Regions from separate parts of the Homo sapiens genome. Here regions 1, 3 and 4 are each linked to region 2. Evidence: fine-mapped expression QTL. A gene starts in region 2. Each other region holds a variant in brackets. All regions are shown on one strand. Distances are from middle to middle.

Region 1 (6,190 bases), 93 kb before region 2:
CACCGGGGCAGCTGGAGCCAGGCTGGGGGACGGTGTCCAGGCACGAAGGCCCTGAGCGCGCCCCCGGCTGTGCCCCTCCGGTGTAGCCCCGTCCCGTGGAGACCAGGGCGGGATCCGAGGCCCGGGGCTCGGCTTCATGCTGGTGGCAGCAACAGACTCTCCGCCAGCGCCGGGCCTGTGCCTGAGACCCCCGTTCCTGGGCAGCGGGCAGGGTGTTGGCTGCAGATCCTTGGATTTGCTCTAAGGACTCTTAGGGGGAAAAGTGGACGTTTCCAAGCAGGCCAGCCTTGGGTTCGGCCTCACAACATGAGGAAGTGGTGTCAGGAGAGACAGGCCGCTGCGGGGACAGAAGAGGCCTGGGCTGGGCAAACGCCTGGTGGCTCTGCCCCTCGCCTACCGGGCTGAGGCCGGCCCCTGCTTTTCTCTCCTCTTCTAGGACATTGAGGTGCTGCTGGGCCACGGGGCAGACCCAGGCATCAGGGACAGGCATGGCCGCTCTGCGCTGCACAGGGCTGCCGCCCGAGGACACCTGCTTGCCGTCCAGTTGCTGGTCACCCAGGGGGCCGAGGTGGATGCGCGGGACACCCTGGGCCTCACACCCCTGCATCACGCCTCTCGGGAAGGCCACGTGGAGGTTGCCGGCTGCCTGCTGGACAGGGGTGCCCAGGTGGATGCTACCGGCTGGCTCCGAAAGACCCCCCTACACCTGGCTGCAGAGCGAGGGCATGGGCCTACCGTGGGGCTTCTGCTGAGCCGAGGGGCCAGCCCCACTCTGCGGACGCAGTGGGCCGAGGTGGCCCAGATGCCTGAGGGGGACCTGCCCCAGGCGCTGCCTGAACTTGGAGGGGGGGAGAAGGAGTGTGAGGGCATAGAGTCCACGGGCTGAGCCAGACAGCAGGCTCCAGGCTCCACCGCCCCAGTGATTTCCAGGCTCTCTGGCTGAGGCTGCCTGCCTGGAGGGGACATCAGGGAAGAGGCTTCCGGAGGAGGGGATGGGAGAAAGTAGGGGATGTGGCTTGAGCTGCAGTCACAGGCCTTGGCTGGACCAGGGATGGCCCCCAGCTCCCAGGAGGGCCCACTGACCCTGCAGCTCCAGCCTTCTCCATACTTCAACAAAGAATGAGTTGTGGCAATGAGGGAAGAGAGACCCTCTCATAGTGTTTTATACTCAGTACCTGTTTTAAGAAAAAACAACAAGGAAGTAAAACCAAAGACAGGCAGGCAGCCTGGCGCTAGGCCCGAAACCAGGCCTGCGCCTGCCTGGCCTAAACCCAGTAGTTGAAAATCAATTCATAACTTAGAAACCGATGTTATTCATAGATTCCAGACATTGTATAGAAGAACATTTGTGAAACTCCCTGCCGTGTTCTGTTTCTCTCTGACCGCCGGTGCATGCAGCCCCTGTCACGTACCGCCTGCTTGCTCAAATCAATGACGACCCTTTCATGTGAAATCTTCGGTGTTGTGAGCCCTTAAAAGGGACAGAAATTGTGCACTTGGGGAGCTCGGATTTTAAGGCAGTAGCTTGCCGATGCTCCCAGCTGAATAAAGCCCTTCCTTCTACAACTGGGTGTCTGAGAGGTTTTGTCTGCGGCTCGTCCTGCTACATTTCTTGGTTCCCTGACTGGGAAACGAGGTAACTGACAGACGACCGAGGCAGCCCCTTAGGCGGCTTAGGCCTGCCCCGTGGAGCATCCCTGCGGGGGACTCCGGCCAGCCTGAGTGACGTGAGCTAAAGAGCGCTCCCGGGTAGGAAATTGCCTCGGTGGAACACCTCGCCAGAGCAGCCCATAACGGGCCCCCATGGTGGATTAACACAGTGGCTGAACACCGGGAAGGAACTGGCACTTGGAGTCCGGACATCTGAAACCTGGTAAGACTAGTCTTTGGAACTTGCCCCACTCCACCTGAGTAGACGCGTGGCCTGATCGCCCACGGCGTGCCTGCATTAGCACCTTTGTTCTGGTTTTGACTTGACTGAGATCATGTGATACTTTGGTTTTGGTTTTGACCTGGCTTGGATTTCTGGATACTCTGATTTTGGTTTTGATTTTGGTTTGGTGTAAACTGCAAAAGTGTGTGTGTGCCCTTTTTACCTGTTTTTTGTTTTGTGGTGTGAGCGTGGTGTTTTGTCTTGAAGAAGCGTGGGTCAGGCACAGATAAGCCCACCCCACTAGGAACTATGTTAAAAAAAATTTTTCAAGAAAGAATTTAAGGGAGATTACGGTGTTACTCTGACACCAGGAAAACTTACAACTTTGTGTGAAATAGACTTGTCAGCATTAGAGGTGGGTTGGCCATCAGAAGGAAGCCTGGACAGGTCCCTTGTTTCAAAGGTATGACACAAGGTAACGTGTAAGCCAAGGCACCCAGGCCAGTTTCCGTACATGGACAGTTAGAGCAGGTTTTAGACCCCCTCCCCCCTACGGTAGTTAAGAGAACAGCAGCATAAGCGGCTGGCAGAGGCAAGGAAAGACCAGCAGAGAGAAAAAGAGGCCATCTATACCAATTCTAAGTTAATTTAGACTAAACAAGGTCTTATTAATAGCAAAGGATAATTGAAATCCCAAACTTCCAAGGTTTTCAACAAAAGCGAAGTTTGCTAAAAGTTAACAGTGTAACATGTTAATGGTAACTTTTAATCTTGTGGCCTCAGACAGTCTAGTCCAAAGACATAAAAAAAGTTCGCTTTAAAAAAGAAAAAAAAAGGGGAGGCTGAATTTATGTGAAAAGCATGTTATACGGTAAATTCTTGTCCTGAAATATATTAACTGGTTGTTTAAAAGTTTGTAATAAGGCAGAAAGTTGAGATATGTTGAAGAATTGT[C/G]GGCGAAAGTTGTAAAACAAAATGTTATAAAAAATTTATGCAAAAAATGTTGTATAATTTAAAAGTAATAAGGCCTCCTGAGTACTATTTTTTTTTTTTTTTTTTTTGAGACGGAGTCTCACTCTGTTGCCCAGGCTGGAGTGCAGTGGCGTGATCTCGGCTCACTGCAAGCTCCGCCTCCCGGGTTCACGCCATTCTCCTGCCTCAGCCTCCCGAGTAGCTGGGACTACAGGCGCCCGCCACCACGCCTGGCTAATTTTTTGTATTTTTAGTAGAGACGGGGTTTCACCGTGTTAGCCAAGATGGTCTCGATCTCCTGACCGCGTGATCCGCCCGCCTCGGCCCCCCAAAGTGCTGGGATTACAGGCGTGAGCCACCGCGCCTGGCCCCTGAGTACTATTAAAAAAAAAAGTTTATGTGCAAGGTGTACAAGAAAAGTAAAATATACCTTTGGTAAAAAAAATTATAAAGGGGCATAAAAATATGGATTTTTACCTACATTAAAAGGTTAAAAAAATTATTGTTTTTAAGAGTTTAAGCAAGTTTTAAAATGTAAATTGTAAAGAAAATTCTGTGTGTAAACATGTTAACTAAAGTTAAAAAGGTATCGTCCAGTTTTTCTGTGAACTGGACATTAAAGTAAAAATGCAACAGGTTTTTCTTAAAGCATCAACCTGCTCTTTAACAAAAGTTATAAAAGGTTAAAAAGAGTCTATAAAATCTTACCTTATGGTCAAACATGAAAAATTGGATAAATATGTCTACAAGGTTTTATTAAAATTAAGTTTAACATTAATAACACACTAATATAAAGGTAAAATTTAGCTTATCTGGTATAAAAATCATACAAGAAGCATTATTAAATATAAAATGGTGTTTAGCTTTCTTTGGTCTAAAAACTAATAAAAATAGGTGCTAAAGGAAACATTCATTTTACTAGAGGATCATGGAAGTTTAAGACTTAAAACAAACTTTGGCAATTAAGACAGCATACCAAGATGCAAAATGCCTGGTTGAAATGGATCAGATATTCCATCTGATGTTAAACAAAAGCAATTGTGATGCTCGTGCACATGGCAGGCCAAAGGCTCTGATTGTCCCCCTTCCACTAAGGTGGTCCTTCAGTCGACCAGGCGTGGGCTGCACGGTAGCTCTTTTCCAGGATTCTACAGCCTGGAGCAGCAAGTCATGCCAAGCTCTCCCCGCTACATTCTGCAGTCCCTGCGGGTCAGCCCCCGAGGGCCATCCAGCTTCCGTCTCCCAAAACTAAGTTCCCTTCGTGTCTCTCACGGCAGGGAGGAGACTTAGCAGTCCTTGGAGACTGGAAGGGATGCAGTGAGCTTAAGAATTTTCGAGAGCTTATCAATCAGTCAGCCCTTGTTCATCCCTGAGCGGATGTGAGCGGATGTGTGGTGGTATTGTGGTGGACCTGTACTGGGCACTCTGCCGAATAACTAGAGTGGCACTTGTGCTTTAGTCCGTTTGGCTATCCCTTTCACCCTGGCATTTCATCAACCAGAGGAGAAAAAAAAAAAAAGACATCGTAAAGCGAGAGAAGCCCCTTATGGGTCTTTCAACTCTCACATCTATTTAGACGCAATTGGAGCCCCACAAGGGACACCAGATCAATTTAAAGCTTGAAATCAAATAGTTACAGGATTTAAGTCAATATTTTGGTAGATGACAGTCAATAAAAATGTAGATTAGATAAACTACATCCATTCCAACCAACAGCAACGAGCTTTTCATGAGTCAAAAAGAAAAACTCATGTCAGCCCCAGCCCCGAGGCTACCTGACCTGACAAAACTCTTTACACTCTATGTGTCAGAAAGAGAAAAAATAGCAGTTGGAGTTTTAACCCAGACCGTAGAGCCCTGGCCAAGGCCAGTGGCCTATCTCTCAAAACAACTAGACGGGGTTTCCAAAGGCTGCCCCCCTGTCCAAGGGCCCTGGCAGCAACGGCCCTGTTAGCACAAGAAGCAGATAAGCTAACTCTTAGGCAAAACCTAAAGTCCCCCCATGCTGTGGTGACTTTAATAAATACCAAAGGACATCATTAGCTAATGAATTCTAGACTAACTAGATACCAAAGCTTGCTCTGTGAAAATCCCCACATAACCACTGAAGTTTGCAAAACCCTAAACCCTGCCACCTTGCTCCCAGTATCAGAGAGCTCAGTGAAACTTAACTGTGTAGAAGTGTTGGACTCAGTTTATTCTAGGGGGCCCAACCACCGAGACCATCTTTAAACATCAGTAGACTCGAGCTGTACGTGGACGGGAGCAGCTTCGCCAACCCCTGCAAAGTGACTCTGAAGAAGACGACAAGCCCTGCTCCAGTCACACCCGGAAGCTGACTGGTCCACGTACAGCCGAAGCATGAGGAAACTCATCGCGGGACTCATTTTCCTTAAAATTTGGACTTGTACAGTAAGGACTTCAACTGACCTTCCTCAGACTGAGAACTGTTTCCAGTATATACATCAAGTCACTGAGGTAAGACAAAAGATTGCTACAGTCCTATTATTTTATGGTTATTGTAAGTGTACCAGGATTCTAAAAGAAACTTGTTTGTATGATGCTATTCTATCCAAGGTATGCAGCCCAGGAAATAACCAAACTGATGCGTGTTATGACCCATTTTAAGCCTCCCATGATCACAGGACTGGTCCTTTTCTAGGTGACACAAGTAAGTTAATAGCTAGAACAGAAGAAAGAGGGGTCCCCAAAAATGTAACCTTAAAATTTGAGGCTGGTGCCGCTATTAATAGTTAGCAGCATGGAATAGGATGCAGTTCTCTAAATTGGAAAAAAAGTTACACAGTAAAAAAAAAATAAGTATATCTGTCAAGAATCACATTTATGTGAGATGTGTCAATACTGGTCTTGTGTCATTTGGGCTACTTGGAAAGAAGATAAAAAAGATCCTGTTTGGCTCCAAAAAGGAAAAGTCAGCCCCTCCTGCACGAGTGGGAGCTACAACCTTTTAGAATTGATAATCACAAACCCTTCAGACCCAAAGTGGAATAAAAAAAAGTGTTAACATTAGGCATTGACAGAAAAGGCTTAGATCCTAGCGTAAGCATCCTAATAGAAGGAGAGGTTCAATAACGCTCTCCACAACCATATTGCAGACTTTCTATGATGAACTAAATGTGTCAGTACCTGAGATTCCAGCAAAAACTAAAACTTTGTTTTTGCAATTAGCCGAACATGGAGCCCAGTCTCTACAAGTCACCTCTAGCTGTGTTTGCGGAGGAACCGTAACAGGAGATCAGCGGCCATGGGAAGCCCGAGAATTAGTTCCTACAGACCCAGTTCCTGATGAATTCCCAGCCCAAAAGAACCACCCTGACAATTTTT
Region 2 (7,030 bases):
TCCGCAGCTTGGAGACCACGTCCTTGGAGATGAATGAGAAGATGGTGCCCAGGCTGTTCAGAAACCTGTGGAAGGGAGCGGGGCTCGAGTCCTCGCCCAGGCCTGGGGCAGCCCGCCTGGGGTGCAGGGGACGCTGCCCAGCCTGCGGGGGCTCACACCCATCTGGAAACGGGCAGCAAAGCTGGTGGGGACAGGCAGTCGGGAGGCAGATGCCACATATGGGACTCGGGCCAGGGGAGCGCCCACCTCAGGAGGCAGCCCTGGCACACGCACCTGACCAGGCCCTTCCAGCTGGCAATGTAGGGGTCCAGCAAGACCTCTTCCTTCTCATCGAGACACTGCTTGAAACTGACCAGGACGACTTTCAGATTGAAACCTGTCTCCGAGTCATCCATTTTTTGATAGGAACGGAAATACAGTAGGGCTGGGGGGCTGTGTCGCTGGGGTCAGCTTGCTCTGTGGCTCATTTTCTGTGTGTGGAGGGGAACAAAATAGCTGCGATCCCATTGCCGCTCACTGAACACTCATGCCCCTCATGGAGCTTCCTCCCAGGAGCTGCCTGGCTCTGCTCCCAGCCAAGCCGCAGGCTCTCAGGCACACCACCCTGACCCACCCTTCATCAGGATTGCGCATTCAGGGACCTTGGCACAGCCCCTCCTGTGGATCAGGCCACTGACTCCGTGTCAGTCCCTGACCCCGAGAGTGGCCCCCTCTGGCTTTATCAGACCACTAGGCCCCGCTGTCTGCAGCAGGTGTCTCTGCTGGTGCTTTCTTGTTTTTGTTTCTCTCTCTAGATGCTGTATCTGCTTTTACCAGCTGGAGAAATACTAAGCCCCTGCCGAGAGCCAAGCACCATCCTAGCCATCTATCTGGGTGCATGGGGAGTGCGAGCAGCCATCTGGGGTGGGGTCAGATGACAACAAAGACAGGAAGTTCTGAAGTCCTAGACAAGAAAACAGACACAGCAGAAAGCAGAGACAGGTGGGGCCGGGGGTGGGGGGATGCTGCCGGGCAGGCTGCCCCATCTTCCTCACTGCTACATCCCCAAAAGCAGAAAAGAGGCTGTAGGGCTGGCACTTGCTGGATGGATGGACACGTGTTTTCACTCCTGTTGCTGAAACTCCATGTCCCACACAGATGGGTTTTACCACTCAGAAGATTGCCACGAGGCTCTTGTACTAGCCCTAGGGAGCCTTCCACGAGTGGCCCAGGCCCTGCTTTGGATTCTGCTGGCATTCACATAGTCACTCCACAGATCCACAGACATCCAGGCACCCATGCTTTGTGTGAGTGTTGCCAAGCACCCTTGCCCTGTCTCCCCGGGTGCCCCACGGGCCCGCACCTGCTCTGGGGAACCTGAGAGTCAGCTGCATTCCACCTCGACCAGGAAGAGGGCCTGGGGGTTCCTAGGCCGGTTGGTGCTGGGAGCCCTGTCCTGGCCTCCCTGGCTGCAGGGACTCCATCGGTGGGGGAGGGGGAAGGGCACCCAGCCGTGGTGAGAGCTCCTGGCCAGGAGCAGGTGGGCAGGTTGCTCAGCACCCTAGGACTGGGCCCTTCATCACTAGGGATCATGGGCTGCAAGCCCTGCCCAGCCCGTGGCCCAGGCTGCTGGAGCACTGGTGCCTGCAGGGTGCTGAAGCCTGGCGTTGCAGGCCCCACAGGTTGGGTTGCATGCTTGGCACCAGGCGGAGGCCCCAGATGTGAGCTCACCGGGCTTCAGGTGTGGGGGATGGCTGCTCCTGGGCCTCAGAAAGATGCAGTCCCATAGACTTCCAGCACGCCCCTCCCCTCCTCGGGCCTTAATTTTGTCCACTGAGAAGATGGTCTCTGAGGCTCTGGGGTTTCCTTCTTGGTCACCAGATATTCTGCGGGCCTTGCCTTCCTGCCCAGATTCGAGCCAGTGGCAAACAGAAGCTGCCAGGAGCTTCTCAGAGCTGTGGCTGGTGGCTCGGTAACAACAGGAAGGGCAGTGGCTGTGCAGGAGGCAGGCAGCTTGCCAGCCCAGGAAGGTGACCCAGGACACCTCCAGGCCTTTCCCAGGGCAGCCCAACGGCCCAAGGTCAGGGCCGGGCGCGAGGGCGGCCTGAGCACAGAGCACGGGGGCTGACAGCAGGCTGGGGGGCCAGCAGGAGACGGGGCCCCACGGCGCCCCAGGCCTTGTGGGTGGGACCAGACCCTGTCGAGCGAGCGCTACGAGTCTCACCTGGGAAGGGGGCTTCAGATGGCACCGGACTGGATGGGCACCGGTTCGGGTCCCTGCTCCACCGAGAGGCCCAGGAAGGGGCGGAGGCCCGGGGTGGTGTTGGGGAGGGGCCGACCTGAGCCACGGCTCCGTCCTGCGCGGGAGCCGGGTCCTCGGCCGCCCGCCCGCTCCGGCCCTCTAGGACGACGTCCCCTCCCGCTCCCGGCCCCTCGGCGACTTCCGGACCGTGCGGGTTGGGTTGGGCAGGTGCGGCCGCCGAGTCCGAGCCGCTCACCTAGGCCGTAGCCGCCGTGCGGGCCCCGTCCCCGCCCACCGCCCCGCCCTCGCCCCGCCCTCGCCCGCCGCCCTGATTGGTTGGATGCTGCCCAATCAGGAGGCCCGGCGCCCCGACCCGCGTTTCCGGCTAGCGCACCGGAAGTTGCAGCGAGGTGGTTGCGCCTGCGCAGTGCATCACCGCAGGCGGGCCTCGCGGGTCCGGGAGCGCGGCGGAGACGATGCCTGAGATCAGAGTCACGCCCTTGGGTGAGTGGGAGCCGCCGGGAGGGCTGTGGGGTGGGCTCCGTATGCGGCTCCGGGCGGGCTGGGCGCCCCGCTCCCTCCCGTTTCTCGTGGAGCCAGGTGCGCGCCGCGGGCGTCCTCCGGTCTCCTCCCCGCGCGGGCCCTGGTGGGAGCCGAGAGGCGGCCTAGTCCCTGCACCCCGGGCCTCCGGCAGTGACGCGAGAACGCGAGCCCCGAGGTTCAGGCGGCCGTGAGGGGACGTCGCAGATGGGGCCGCGGGGCCTTCGCGCTCGCTGTGCGCTTTCGTCGGTGCCTTGACCTCCCCGTGCCGCGCGCTGCCGCCTCCAGCCCTACCAGCCCTTCAGTCCCTTAGCCCCTCAGCCCCGCAGACCCTCAGCCCCCCAGCTCCCCAGCCTCTCAGCCTCCCAGCCCCTCAGCCCCCCAGCCCCTCAGCCCCCCAGCCCCCCAGCCCCTCAGCCCCGCAGACCCTCAGCCCCCCAGCTCCCCAGCCTCTCAGCCTCCCAGCCCCTCAGCCCCTCAGTCCCTCAGCCCCCCAGCCCCCCAGCGCTCCAGTCCCCCAGACCCTCAGCCCAGCAGACCCTCAGTCCCCCAGCCCCTCAGTCCCCCAGCCCCTCAGCCCAGCAGACCCCCAGACCCTCAGCCCCCCAGCCCCTCAGCCCCCCAGTCCCCCAGCCCCCAAGCCCCTTAACCCCGCAAGCCCCTCAGCCCCCCAGCCCCGCTTCTGCCTCCTCACGTCTTGCTTTCTGTCCACCACTCTGTGTGCTCACGCCCGAGTTACAATCAACTCTCACTTTAGCTCTTGTTCTACCTGATTTCTGCAACACTGAAAAAAATAGCAAAAAACGCAAATATGTACTCCTAAAAGTCCTGACAGTCTGGGCACTGTGGCTCACGCCTGCAATCACAGCACTTTGGAAGGCAGAGGTGGGAGGATCGCTTGAGCCCAGGAGTTCAAGACCAACCTAGCCAACATGGCAAGACCCCATCACTCCAAAAAAAAAAAATGCTAAAATTGGCAGGGCGTGGTGGTGTGTGCCTGTGGTTCAAGCTACTTGGGAGGCTGAGTTGTGAGGATTGCTTGAGCCCAGGAGGTTGAGGCTGCAGTGAGCCATGATTGTGCCACTGCACTCCAGCCTGGGTGACAGCAAAACCATGTCTCAAAAGAAAGTCAAAGTCGTAACAGTATAGAACGATGTGAAGAAGGAAAAAATTAGTCAAAATCCAGGGTCTCAGAAACAGCTGGAGGGACATGGTGTTGGTGGCCAGTCATCCTGATGTCCTTAGCGTTTTCCACAGGTGCCTGCCCTGTGCTGTCCTGGAACCTGGTCCTTCCACCGGGCAGGGGGTCGAGGGCACCTTCCAGCACAGACACCAGGACGGGATTCCATGTCCTCCCCCATGGCGTGAGCGCTTCCTCGGAGGGTGCCCCCCGCCCCGGTGTGGACACTGTGCTGTGAACACCCCTGGCCTGTGCACACCCCATGGCATTTTGCAGCTGTTTGCATGGGCCCCACTGCCCTCCCCTGCTCTCTGGGTCCTCCGTGGGGTCCTCCCAGCCTGCCCCTTTCCCATTTGGCCTCTTGGCTGCCTGTTCTGCCCACTCTCTGGACATCTGATCTTTCTGATCTTTCATGTGGCTTCAATTACCCGCAATCTGTACCTGGGTATATTCTCAAGGTCACCTCAGCCAAGGTATCATCAAAGCCGAAGTCCTGTTTCACCGCTTCCCTGCACCAGGGACTGCCTCGGGCTCCGTGTCCGCGCTCACTGGACCACTGCTGTGTCCTTGGGGTCACTCCCACGCCTTGGCCTGTGTGTGGCTACCCCCCCCGCCGCCGGTCCCCCTACCCACCCTGCCCATCCCTCCCCACCGCCGGTCCCCCCACCCACCCTGCCCGTCCCTCCCCCTGCTGGTCCCTTCCCTCCCCCCTGCCTGTCCCTCCCTGCTGCCTGTCCTCCCTCCGCCCGCCCCGCTTCTTCTCCTCCCCTGGACCATCCCTTCCCCACCCCGTCCCTCCCCCTCCCCCACCCTACCCCTCCCCTCCCCTGCTCAAAAGTTGGCTTCTCGGAGCAGTCTCCTGTCATGGTTCTGGAAGTTTTGAGGCTTCCTCATTCTCTCACCTTGCTCTTTTCTGTCATAGTAACCTTCGTCTGGCGTGCTTTGGGTGTCTTGTTTGTCTGCCGTCTGTCTCCTTGCTGACAGGGATATCTCCTCCTGTCTTCTGAGCCCTGTCCCCTCGTGTATCTCCAGGCTCTATTCCCGCACCTTTCCACTTTCCTTCCTGGGATCACTGTGGGTCCTGTCGGGAGGCGGGACTGCCAGTACTTCAGGACTGGGCTTTGGAATTCAGAAAACCAGCCCGGGCCCCATGCCTCGGGGCCGTGTGCCACAAGTGCCTCTGTGGCCTTAGGTCCCTGGGCATGAAGAGGGGCGGCCCTCCCTTCCCACAGGTGCCAGAGGGCCTCTGTGAGCCTGGCGTGGCTTGGGGTAGGAGATGCAGAGGGAGGAGACAGCTGAGACCCTGCTCTCAGAGAGCTCACACCCAGCGGGGGCAGGAACAGGCCTGGAAGAGAACCTGAGATCCCCTCTCTGTGGCAGGCAGCCCCTCGGCTGTGGCCCCGTCATCCTGATGTGTGGTGCTGGCTTTGGACACTTCGAGTGGCTGGCAGGGGGAGGTGGGTGGGATTCAAGGGGAAAACTGTTCACTGCCATCAGACTCCTGCCCAGGCACAGTCTGTGCAGGGGCCGTGACCCTTTCCTCTCGGGCCCCCAGGCCACATGAGGGGGCTGAGTGTGCCTTGGCTGGCCAAGGCCTCTGGCTGGAGCAGCTGGGCAGGGCTGCTTGGCTGTCAGGAGTGTGGGAGGGCTGCAGATGAGGGTCTGTGTTGGGGGCTGCATGGTGTGCAGTGGTGTGAGGCTCGTGTTGCCACGCTGGCCACTGCTGGACCACTGGCACCGTGTTCGCTATGGCATGGCTGAGGCTGTGTGGCGCCCCTCCACAGCCGCACCACCAGAGAACACCCAGTGCCAGCACTTAGTCACTTACTGCCTTGCCTGCCTGGGGAAAGATCCTGGAGAAGGTGGCCTCATTGGTTTGCAGCTCTGCTGGGGGTCCAGCCACAGCCCAGGAGTGACTCTGACCGAGGTGTTGGCCCCACAGACCAGCCGTTGTCTCTGTTGGAGGCTGAGGGCCACAGCACAGTGCCCACTACTTAGCCAGCAGGCCGTGGCCACCTTAAGAGGCCAGGGGAAGCTGGCGGGGGAGGGCGTGTGGGCTGCCAGCCTCCACCCTGGACATGATGGTGTGGGGCATGGTCCCCTGTGTCCCCCTTCCTGTGAGTAGGGGTGGCCCTGCTTCTTGGCCCATGTGTCTGTCCACACAGCAGACTTGGTCCGGTTTCCTCAGTGCACTGGGGTCCTGCAGAGCTTGGGGAGGCAGCACAGGGGGCGGGGGGCGCAGCAGTGACTCATCTGCCCTCCCTCGAGTAGGGGCCGGCCAGGACGTGGGCCGAAGCTGCATCCTGGTCTCCATTGCGGGCAAGAATGTCATGCTGGACTGTGGAATGCACATGGGCTTCAATGACGACGTGAGTCCCTTGGGCAGGAGGCCCAGAGGCTGGGAGAGCCGGCCATCCACAGCTGGACCCTGGGCCTCAGAGCCGGGACAGTGGGGTGGTGGGCAGCAGTGGTTGTGCTTGGATGGCTGCACCCTGTGGGGAGCAGGGATGGGTGGGCCTGGCCGAGGTGAGCCCCTGCATGGTGGGGTCCCCCTGTGCTGGCGCTGAGCCCCAGCCCCGGGGTCCTGTAGGCTGGACTCCGTGAGACCCTGGGCTCAGCTTCCAGCTCACATCTGTCAGTGAGGTTGGGGGTAACCTCGGCCCCTCCGGATGCTGTGAGCAGCCAGGGGTCCTGGTGCCACCTGCGGGATGGGAGTGCCCAGCCTGAGTCTGCACATAGAACCCCCCTTCCTGGGGGCCCCTCCCTGGGGCATGGGTGGCCCCAGATGCTGCCTGGAGACCACTGTGCAACCTGAAACCCCCACATCCTTCCTAGCGACGCTTCCCTGACTTCTCCTACATCACCCAGAACGGCCGCCTAACAGACTTCCTGGACTGTGTGATCATTAGGTGGGTTCCTGTTGGGGGCCTTGAGGGTCCCATGTCTGTGCCTGTGGGGCTTGGGCCACCTTGCTTGGTCTCGGCAGCGTTTGGCAAGGGGCCTGTGCCATCCTTGATCCTCAGGGGGCTTCTAGGCCCCAGGATCTGCTCCCTGCCTGCCTTACTGGTCACACACATGGCCTGGTCTCT
Region 3 (5,000 bases), 380 kb after region 2:
AACGCTCTGCCCGGACCCGAACCTAGAGCTGAACACAGTGCTTGGCACTCTCGGGGCGCGTGCTGGTGGCTGAGAGCGCGGGGGTGCGGGCGGCACCCCAGAAACAAGCAGAGAACGGCAGCCACCCCAGTACCTCTCCGAGAAGGACGGGGCGGCAGCTGGGGCGGCGCCCTCCCGGTGCTGAGCCAGGCCCTGCTTCCGACGCTGACCTGCCGTGGAGGAGGGCAGGTGGGCTTCCAGGCCACTGGGGCCCCTCAGAGCTGCAGCCGCCACCTCCTGCCGGACCCTCAGGAGATCTGGGTGGGGGACAACAGCAGTGATCCCCCCGGCTATGCGCCCTCATCCTCCCCAGCCCGCGTCCTGGCGTAGAACACTGAGGTGGGGAACTGACCACACCACTCGGCCGTGCTCGGCCCCTGGGCTGGTCTCGGGCACGGGGCAGGAGGATGGGCGGCCACAGGGCCGAGACGGCAGACAAGATGCTGGGCGAGGAAGTGTCGGGAAAAGCTCTTCCCCGAAGGGGAGCCGGGTGCCTGGAGGCTTCCGGCCTGAGAGGCGGCTGAGCCTTGCGGGGAGGGGGCTGTGCAGACGTCCCGAGGCCACAGAGCCTGCGGGGCAGCGAGAGAGTCCAGAAGTGCCAGCCAGGGGCTGACCGCCCAGGGGACCCCCTCTTCGGTGGGAGGCAAGAAAATCTGAGGTCCCCATAGTAGACGCGGCTGGCCAAAGCTTGTCACAAAGGCAAGGCAGCGCCCGCGCACGCACGCCACACTAGCACAGGGGTCGCCCAGTCCCGGCTGCGCAGGGTCACTGTCCCGCGTGGCCACACTCGCCCCAATGCGCACGCAGCGCCCGCGTCTAAGGCGCCGCGTCCCAGGTCTCTCGGCCTCTCCCTCCCGCCCGGGCCTCCCGAGTCCCCGCAGCCCCCACTATGCAGGCTCCGCCAGCTCCACCGCCGCCTCTGTTTATAAATTAATTACCCGAAAGCGGAGGTGGGTCCCGCCCCGGGCCGGGTGCCAGCCCGCAGAGCCCAGCCGGCGCGGCCGCCCGCATCGATCCCAGCGGGGCCCAGCGCCCCCGCGCTAGCGGCCGGGTTAGTTACAGGGTTATTTACGGCCGGCTCCGCGGCGGGGCGGGGGGGGGGGGCGGCGGCGCGGCCTGATTGACAGCGCGCTCCCCGGCGGCCGGCGCCCCTCCCCCGCGCGGCCAGCAGAGCGGCCCCAGGCAGAGCAGGGAAAGCAATTAAAAAGGAGGATTTTTACATTATTAACATTTGGTGAATTATTCAGGCTCTTGGTGCCTGAGCTGCCCTGGGGGACGGTGCCTGGTGTGAGGAATCCTGCCTCCTTTCCCGGCGCCCCCACCCACCTCTAGCCCGAAAAGCCAAGCTCCCCTGCCAGGCGGGCGGCTGGGGCCTGGGAGGCTGAGTGCAGCGGGCAGGGGGTCCGAGTGCATCCCGGAGGGACCCCTGGAGAACGTCCTGAGGTGGGGTGGACAGGGTCAGGGCCGACCCGGGGGAAGGGGCAGCCCCTCCAGCTGGCGTCTCTTCAGCACCTGGGGAGTCCTGGTGGCCAAGTGCCCACTGCACCCAGCCCGGCCTTTCTGCTCACTGCCCCTCCCCAGGCTCCTGGGGCAGGCGTCTGGCAGGTCGGCGTCCACTGGCTGCATAGACGACTCACAGACCACAGGGTCCAGGAGCTTGCTCTCCTCGGGGGGTGCTGCTGACATGCCCACTGCCCACCCTCACCTGGGTCCACCCCAGACTCCATTTCTCTCTATATAAAATGTGAGCTAGTCATGACCCTGGGGACCTAGGGGACATGGAGGTGTGGCCCGCCCCAGGGGGCATGGGGCAGGACGTGTGGCAGAGGGACCTGCATCCAGCCTGGCCTTGGTGTCAGCAGGGCCTCAGCAACAGGAATGGCCGAGTACATGTGGCTGGGGAGGTGATGAGGGGAGATCATGCCAGGGTGGGTCCTCACCGTGGCTGGGGAGGTGATGAGGGGGATCATGCCAGGGTGGGTCCTCACCGTGGCTGGGGAGGCCCAGGTGGTAGAGGCGCTGAGGGTCCTCAAAGGTGCTGGCCTCGCTCAGTGCTGACACAAGCCGGCGGTAATGGTCCTCCGGGGCCATGCTGGGCCCCAGCTCCCGCGGCAGCAGCAGCGCCTCTGCTGGGGAGGACCCGGGGTGAGAGGTTTCTCCAGGCACTGCCGAGGACCACGCCCCTCTAGAGTGCCTGCTCGAGGTCCAGGGGACCCTCAGGGACTGCCCCCTCCCCTGGTGACCTGTCTCTCGTCCCAGCCACGCTCTTACCTTGAGGCGATTCGCTTCGTGCCCTCTTCTCTGAAAAGCAGTCGCTGCTGATACGGGGGGAGCGGCCCAGCCTCTTGCCCAACAGGTCACCTGCGGGAGGGTAGTGAGTGCCCACCTGCATCTCAAGGAATGGAAGGGGAACCCAGCCCCTGCTCCAGCTCAGCCTGGACCGCACCCACCATCTCTCAGGGGGCCCTTGGTCCTGGTGAGTACAGGCCTTGCCCAGCCCTGGCAGCCCCAGCCTTCAGCGCAGAGGACATCACGCCTGGCTGTGGCGGGACAGGGGCACAGGGGAGCTCTGACACTGGCCCTGGTGCGTGTGTGCAGAAGAGATCCACAGCAGGCACCCAGCTGCCCCACCCGCCATCTAGCCTCTTGTGCAAGTTAACGAGCCCCCCTCTCATCCCCCTAGAGGAGAATAAAAAGCTTTTGGTTTGACCAGGCACCACCTTCCCCTCCTGGACAGGAGTGAGGGCGGGCTGTGCAGGGTCACATGCCAGCGTGGGGTGAGACAAGCCGGGAAGGACCTCACACCTGACCTCTTGCTGCTCTGTGAGTCACTGGGCTGTGGGCCCCCCAGGCCGCCTCGAGGCGCCTCCACTCCCAGGCCTCCTACTTGGTCATACCCATCCCTGCCCCCAGAAGGCCCA[C/A]GTCCTCCTCTCTGGCCCAGTCCTGCCTGAGCTAGCACCCTGGCGTGGCTGTCATGCCCTTGTCCACCAGCCCAGCCAGGCTCTGGGCTTCTGGGGTGCACCTCCCAGTAGCTTCACCCACCTCCTCAGCCACGAGGCCAGCCCAGCCCTAGCCCCAAACACAGCCCAGCAGGTGGCAGAGGGGAGGCCCAGGCCAGGTCCAGCTTCAGCCCCAAACACAGCCCAGCAGGTGGCAGAGGGGAGGCCCAGGCCAGGCCCAGCTCACTCTCCTGAGGTCCTCCCTTGGGTCCTGCCGACCGCACCCATTCCAGACCACACCATCCATGTACCCATCTCCGACCCACCCCGAGCTCCTCCGAAGCCCCTGACTCCACGCCCTGGGGGTCTCCCAGGCCAGCCAGTGCCTCCGACTCTGGCCCTTCCTCATCCTCATGAGGGCTCTAGCTGGGTGGAGTGAGGGGCCACTCCCCTGTGACCCAAGACCTCCATGAGGCCTAGGCAGTGGGGCTCCCAAGCCCGTCCCCCCACAAGCCCTGCCGTCAGCTCCAGGCCTAATTCCTTTTTCTTATTCCCTTAATCTGTCATTTTTATCAGGCTGGGGAAGTGCGGCGGCCACACCGATCAATCCCACATTACAGCTGACAGAGTGGTGCTAATAACTTATTGATCCTGGCCCGGCTGCTGTCAGGCCCGGCCCCAGAGAGAGGGTCAGTCCCACGGTCTGGTCCAGGGTCCCCACCTCGGTGACAGATCGGGTGGCTGGGCCCGGCGGGCGGCGGGGGGCACCTGGCCACACACGGATCCAGGCACCACTGCTCAGGCCCCTGAGAAGCCATCGTCTCCCCCACAGCCTCCCGTGCCAGAGCTCGGTGGGCTGGGAGGGGGTGGGCCAAGGCTGGGGGAACCTGGCTCTTTTCCACACCTGCCACCTGGCCCACCATGCACATGCCCTCAGGGTTAGCAAGGCCTCTCACCTCCTGGCAATCACTTTTCCATTGTACACAGTGGAAACTACCCTCTCCGTTCTGTGGGGGGCTAAGGCCTCCTCCTAGCCTGGGGGAGGTGACTGGGTGGGGGGGGGGGCAGGTGGAAGGGGGCCTGCAATGAGACCGCAGGAAGGCCGATGAGGCCATGCTCACTCCTCACTCATGGACCCCAGCGGGTCTCACAGAGGCAGATGCAGGACCTGCTCTGAGTCCCTCACAGCCCAGGGCCCAGGGAGGTGCGGCTTAGCGGGAGGGCCCGGGCTGGGAACAGGATGGATGTGTGGTTCCTGGGGTCACAGGAAGGGAGAAGAGGTGAACGCCCCCCAGGGTGAATGCCCCTCCAAGAGGAGGCTCCGGGGAGCGGGCCAGACCCTGACACGGAGTGCGTATGGGAGACCTGGACACGGGTCCAGGACACGTGAGGCCCCGTAGAGCCTGTGAGCCCGGAAGTGCACGAACACGTCCTGACTCCATGGGTGAGAGCTGCCGGGCAACCCCCATCACGTGCACCCCACAGGACCCCAGACACAGACATGCCGGCACACGCACACGCGTGTACCTGAGGAGGTCTCCCTGTGTGAAGGCACAGGGGAGGGCCTGCTGGCTCAGAATATCTCAATCATTGTGGGGCTCCCTCCGCTCTGCTGGATCGATGGGGCAATTAGATTTTATCAACCGCCTCTCAGCTGTCTCCAACGCGGCATCAGAAGCTGCCCCCACCCAGCCCCACAAGGGCCTTCCTAGGTGCACGAGGACGCGGATGGGGGCCATGGATGGGGGACACAGATGGGGGTGGGCCTCCCCCACCCCTCCTTCCCAAGAGATGCAGGCCCTGCTGGGAACACCCCTGCCTGGGGTCCACAGGGCCTCGGGGCGCCCCCGCCTCCTTTCACGGCCTGCCCTGGGGCTGAGGCTCTGCTGTGCCCCTCTCTACAGCAGTGCCCTCTGAGGGGGGCCTGGTCCCCCCACAACTGTGACCAGGCAGCAGCACCTCCCTCAGGCGCCGGATCCCTTCCCTCCCGAGAACCCCATCCTTCCCGGAGCCCTAGAAGGC
Region 4 (5,000 bases), 36 kb after region 2:
CTCTGTGGGACCTGTGGGGTCTGCCTGGCTGTCCACACCCCCACCCCACCACTTTGGGGACTCACAGCTGACTTGGCGGAAGGCCACCTGGAGGTCCCAGTGGAGAGCTTGAATGCAGACTCCCTGGAAGAGACAGCCGGGTGTCACCTGCCACGCTACCTGGGGCAATGATCCCTGGCCGCGACCCCAACACCCCCGTCTCACCTGCAGGGCCTGGGGCAGCGGGAGGTACAGGGGAGCCGGTGGGTCTCCAGGTCCTGGTAGAGGCGGTAGAAGCAGTGTCCTTGGGGAGGGGTCAGAGGCATGTGTGAGGCTCGCTGTGACCCCCCGGCTAATGGCTGACAGAGTGGGAGGCAGCGAGCAGGACTCACCCCAGGCAGGGTGCCGGGCAGAGCTGCAGTACTCAGCCCCCGCCGGCAGAGGGTGGAGGTAGTAGCCACAGGAGCAGGTCTCCACCATCAGCTGCTGGAAGCAGGACACCAGGCAGGCCTGGGGACAGGGGGGATGAGCAGGGACATGGGATGGAGCGGAGACATGGGGGACGGGGCAGAGACACGGGACGGAGCAGGGACACGGGACGGAGCAGGGACACGGGACGGAGCAGAGACACGGGACGGAGCAGAGACACGGGGGACGGAGCAGAGACACGGGACGGAGCAGAGACACGGGACGGAGCAGAGACACGGGACGGAGCAGAGACACGGGACGGAGCAGGGACACGGGACGGAGCAGAGACACGGGACGGAGCAGGGACACGGGACGGAGCAGGGACACGGGACGGAGCAGACACGGGGGACGGAGCAGAGACACGGGACGGAGCAGAGACACGGGGGACGGGGCAGAGACACGGGACGGAGCAGAGACACGGGACGGAGCAGAGACACGGGACGGAGCAGAGACTCGGGGGACGGACACGGGACGGGGCAGAGACACGGGGGACGGAGCAGAGACACGGGACGGAGCAGGGACACGGGGGACGGAGCAGAGACACGGGACGGAGCAGAGACACGGGGGACGGAGCAGAGACACGGGGGACGGAGCAGGGACACGGGACGGAGCAGAGACACGGGACGGAGCAGAGACTCGGGGGACGGAGCAGGGACACGGGACGGAGCAGAGACACGGGACGGAGCAGAGACACGGGACGGAGCAGAGACACGGGACGGAGCAGAGACACGGGACGGAGCAGGGACACGGGACGGAGCAGGGACACGGGACGGAGCAGGGACACGGGACGGAGCAGACACGGGGGACGGAGCAGAGACACGGGACGGAGCAGAGACACGGGGGACGGGGCAGAGACACGGGACGGAGCAGAGACACGGGGGACGGAGCAGAGACACGGGACGGAGCAGAGACACGGGGGACGGAGCAGAGACACGGGACGGAGCAGAGACACGGGGGACGGAGCAGAGACACGGGGGACGGAGCAGGGACACGGGACGGGGCAGAGACACGGGACGGGGCAGGGACACGGGACGGAGCAGGGACACGGGGGACGGAGCAGAGACACGGGACGGAGCAGAGACACGGGGGACGGAGCAGAGACACGGGACGGAGCAGAGACACGGGGGACGGAGCAGAGACACGGGGGACGGAGCAGGGACACGGGACGGGGCAGAGACACGGGACGGAGCAGGGACACGGGACGGAGCAGGGACACGGGGGACGGAGCAGAGACTCGGGGGACGGAGCAGAGACACGGGACGGAGCAGAGACTCGGGGGACGGAGCAGGGACACGGGACGGAGCAGAGACACGGGACGGAGCAGAGACACGGGACGGAGCAGAGACACGGGACGGAGCAGAGACTCGGGGGACGGAACAGGGACACGGGGGACGGAGCAGAGACACGGGACGGAGCAGGGACACGGGACGGAGCAGAGACACGGGACGGAGCAGAGACACGGGACGGAGCAGAGACACGGGACGGAGCAGAGACTCGGGGGACGGAACAGGGACACGGGGGACGGAGCAGAGACACGGGACGGAGCAGGGACACGGGACGGAGCAGAGACACGGGACGGAGCAGAGACACGGGACGGAGCAGAGACTCGGGGGACGGAGCAGGGACACGGGACGGAGCAGAGACACGGGACGGAGCAGAGACACGGGACGGGGCAGAGACACGGGGGACGGAGCAGAGACACGGGGGACGGAGCAGAGACACGGGACGGAGCAGAGACACGGGGGACGGAGCAGAGACACGGGGGACGGAGCAGAGACACGGGACGGAGCAGGGACACGGGACGGGGCAGAGACACGGGACGGAGCAGAGACACGGGACGGAGCAGAGACACGGGGGACGGAGCAGAGACACGGGACGGAGCAGGGACACGGGACGGAGCAGGGACACGGGACGGAGCAGGGACACGGGACGGAGCAGGGACACGGGACGGAGCAGAGACACGGGGGACGGGGCAGAGACACGGGACGGAGCAGGGACACGGGACGGAGCAGACACGGGACGGAGCAGAGACTCGGGGGACGGAGCAG[A/G]GACACGGGACGGAGCAGAGACACGGGACGGAGCAGAGACACGGGACGGAGCAGAGACACAGGGAATGGAGCGGGGACACGGGGGATGGAGTGCGGGCCTCCACGGGGACTGCCCCGTTCCCAGGCCCTCTAGTACTCTCCCAGACCCCTCCCCCGTTCCACCCGCCCACACCCCCTGGCCAGCCCAGCCTCACCTGCCCCCGCACCCCCTGCCAGCCCAGCCTCACCTGCCTGGTGTAGGAGGTGTTGTGTAGCAGCTCCACCTCCACGCCTTCCCCGCCGGCGGTGCAGTGGCCGTAGGGGCTCCCGAGCCGGTGCACCTCGTCCTGGGAGGGGACGCTTCAGTTCCATGGGCCCTGCCCTCACCCCCCAAAGCCCAGGTTGGGCAGGAGGCCTGGGCCGGAGGTTGGCTGCAGAGGCCAGCTCACCTCTCGGATGCTGATGGTGGCCTCCGTCCCTGGCCGGACGCTGAAGCTGTGGTGCCCCAGGAAGGGCGTGTGGTTACGGCCGTGAACCATGACCCTGATGCCGGCCAGCGTGGACAGCAGAGGGAGGTGAGGCTGCTGCTCAACCCTGAGGACCAGGCCGACTCCTGGGAGGCCAAGGGCTGGTGTGAGGCCACCTGACCTGCACCCCTGCCCCCGCACCGGCCAGGGGCTGGCACCCACCGTGGGTGATGCCGGGGCGCTGAGCTGTCCAGACGCCATCGACCGTGTAGCAGCTGCCGTAGGTGGGGTGGTGGAAGGTCCGGAACTGTCTGGAATGAGAAGCCAAGCTCAGACCTTGAATGTCGGCTGCCCGCGCCCGTCACGCTGGCCTGAGGGGCCATGGCCTGCCCTGTGTCTGCGGAAAGTTCCTCCGGCCAGCCTTGGGTGGCTCCCAGCATACAGCCAGAGGGACCCCAGGGGTGCGGCCACGCTCTGTGGGGTGGGACGGAAGGAGTGGCCCCCGCCCGCCACACTCACCGGGCCTGGCAGTCCAGGCCATCGTAACTGCAGGAGAGGACGAAGTGGCCGTCCTGGCTCCCGTGGCTGTCCTCCCATGCCGCGGGCAGCAGGGCCAGGATATCCACATAGTGGAAGTGGTACCAGTCCTGGACAGCCGCCACGCCTGACGTGTAGCCTCGGTAAAAGCAGTCGCCGCCCGTGCTGTTGCACTGGGAGAGGGGAGGGAGGGTCAGCTCTGTGGCTACAGCCCAGGCCCCGCTCCCCACTCGAGGTACCAGCAGCGCAGGGCCGTGCTCCCAGCTCAAGGCCCTGATGGCTGCAGGCCCCGGCTGGGACACTCACCAGTCTGAACCCCACTCTGACCCGGCTGCCCGAGTGGCTCAGCCTCTGCAGACGGATCTCCCGGTCCAGGTGGAAGGGGGGCTCGTGGCGGGGGACAGTGGCGGAGAGGGCGGCTCTGCCTTTGCTGAGGTTGACGTTGTACAGGGAGTCAATGTTCTCCCTGGCAAACTCGTCCAGCAGCTCCAGATGGCGGAGGACCGGACTCGGCCTGGGACGCAGGGCCCTGGAGTCAGAGTTGCCGGCCCGGGGCCTCACACTGGCCCCAGCATCCCAGTGTGTGCTGTCGGGACAGCAGTGCCTCCCCTACTCGGGACGCCCAGTGGGGTGAGCTGGACCCAGAGCTGGAGTTGGAGGCCGTGGCTGCCGGTGAGGTCGGCCCCGGAGCCCAGCCCGCTCGCAGCCCCTCCCACCTTCCCTCCTTCTGGAAAGCCTCGCCCACCCCCACCTCTCCTCCCAGGCTCCCGAGGGCCCTGGTGTCCCTCCAGGGGGCAGTGACCACACTGAGCCCCCTCCTTGGCAGTCCGAGAGGTCCGGGCTGGGCACCGAGGTTTGGGAGGTCACAGTGACCAGGAGGGTGGCATTGACCACACAGAGCCCCCTCCTCGGCTACAGGGGCCAGTGGGGCTTCGGTTAGAGACGGTCACAGGGGCAAGGAGCTGGGGCGGCCACCCCTCCCGCCGACAGCCCTGGCCCTCACCGACGTGGGTTCCCGTCACACAGGGTGACCAGCGGGAGCAGCTTGCGCTCCGAGTGCACAGAGACGGCCATGAGGACCGGGCGGTGCCAGTGACGCTCAAAGAGGAGCCCCAGCTGCCAGCAGAGCGCGACCAGGGCTCCCAGGGACAGCAGCCCCCAGGACGTCGTCTTGAGGCGGTTCCCGCGGGAGCAGACCAGGCGGATGGCGCCGTGGATGGTGGCATTGGTGCAGAAGAAGGTGAGCAGCTCCCGGAACGAGGCGGGCAGCTCCACCAGCCCCTCCTGGTGCCCCTCCTTGGGTGGTGGTGGTGGTGCTGATGGTGGCCCCGGCCTGGGGGGCGTCTGGGCTGCAGCCTGTGTGCAGAGTGGCCTCAGCAGGGCCCGGCCTGCACCCACTCAGGCCTCCCTACCCTGGGCCTGTCATGTCTGTCAGCCACCAGTGCCCCGCCCTACCTGCTCGGTCGCTCGGACAAGCCCCTCCCAGGGTGCTCTGACACTGCGCCCTTCTCCCCGGATACAC

Which allele goes with the higher level. Positions count from the first base shown, and alleles are read on the strand shown. Sizes are in standard deviations (SD) of each study's normalised expression. Not every link is listed here.
As copies of C replace A in region 3, the expression in testis of the gene that starts at base 2,504 in region 2 goes up (moderate effect, 0.42 SD a copy in GTEx).

Evidence for each region. PIP is the estimated chance that this variant, and not a neighbour inherited with it, causes the effect.
Region 1: its variant is fine-mapped to the expression of CPTP in whole blood (TOPMed, PIP above 0.99).
Region 3: its variant is fine-mapped to the expression of CPTP in testis (GTEx, PIP 0.92).
Region 4: its variant is fine-mapped to the expression of CPTP in whole blood (INTERVAL, PIP above 0.99).

What each region holds. Positions count from the first base shown.
Region 1 is chr1:1,413,796-1,419,985 of GRCh38, reverse strand. ANKRD65 (ankyrin repeat domain 65) reads left to right here. Exons shown (of 4, transcript NM_001145210.3): 4 at 437-1,566. The coding sequence ends at 886. Among named protein-coding and RNA genes, the nearest start is that of ANKRD65-AS1, 3.3 kb to the left of the region's middle. RefSeq lists enhancers at 1,041-1,490, 1,658-1,737. The variant C/G (reference allele first, on the strand shown) is at 2,828.
Region 2 is chr1:1,320,276-1,327,305 of GRCh38, reverse strand. It overlaps CPTP (ceramide-1-phosphate transfer protein), which reads right to left and starts at 2,504. Exons shown (of 3, transcript NM_001029885.2): 1 at 2,204-2,504; 2 at 274-470; 3 at 1-65. The coding sequence starts at 395. INTS11 (integrator complex subunit 11) reads left to right here and starts at 2,646. Exons shown (of 17, transcript NM_017871.6): 1 at 2,646-2,725; 2 at 6,213-6,310; 3 at 6,777-6,850. The coding sequence starts at 2,698. RefSeq lists silencers at 2,048-2,547, 2,728-2,857 and enhancers at 3,676-4,185, 4,949-5,457.
Region 3 is chr1:936,440-941,439 of GRCh38, reverse strand. It overlaps SAMD11 (sterile alpha motif domain containing 11), which reads right to left. Exons shown (of 14, transcript NM_001385641.1): 6 at 2,311-2,400; 7 at 2,028-2,165; 8 at 134-296. Among named protein-coding and RNA genes, the nearest start is that of SAMD11, 15 kb to the right of the region's middle. RefSeq lists a silencer at 3,018-3,067 and an enhancer at 2,794-3,505. The variant C/A (reference allele first, on the strand shown) is at 2,961.
Region 4 is chr1:1,285,760-1,290,759 of GRCh38, reverse strand. SCNN1D (sodium channel epithelial 1 subunit delta) reads right to left here. Exons shown (of 18, transcript NM_001130413.4): 7 at 4,482-4,834; 8 at 3,785-3,992; 9 at 3,461-3,651; 10 at 3,164-3,252; 11 at 2,924-3,087; 12 at 2,723-2,821; 13 at 372-489; 14 at 205-283; 15 at 66-123. Among named protein-coding and RNA genes, the nearest start is that of SCNN1D, 7.8 kb to the right of the region's middle. RefSeq lists enhancers at 832-1,404, 1,677-2,223, 2,224-2,771. The variant A/G (reference allele first, on the strand shown) is at 2,496.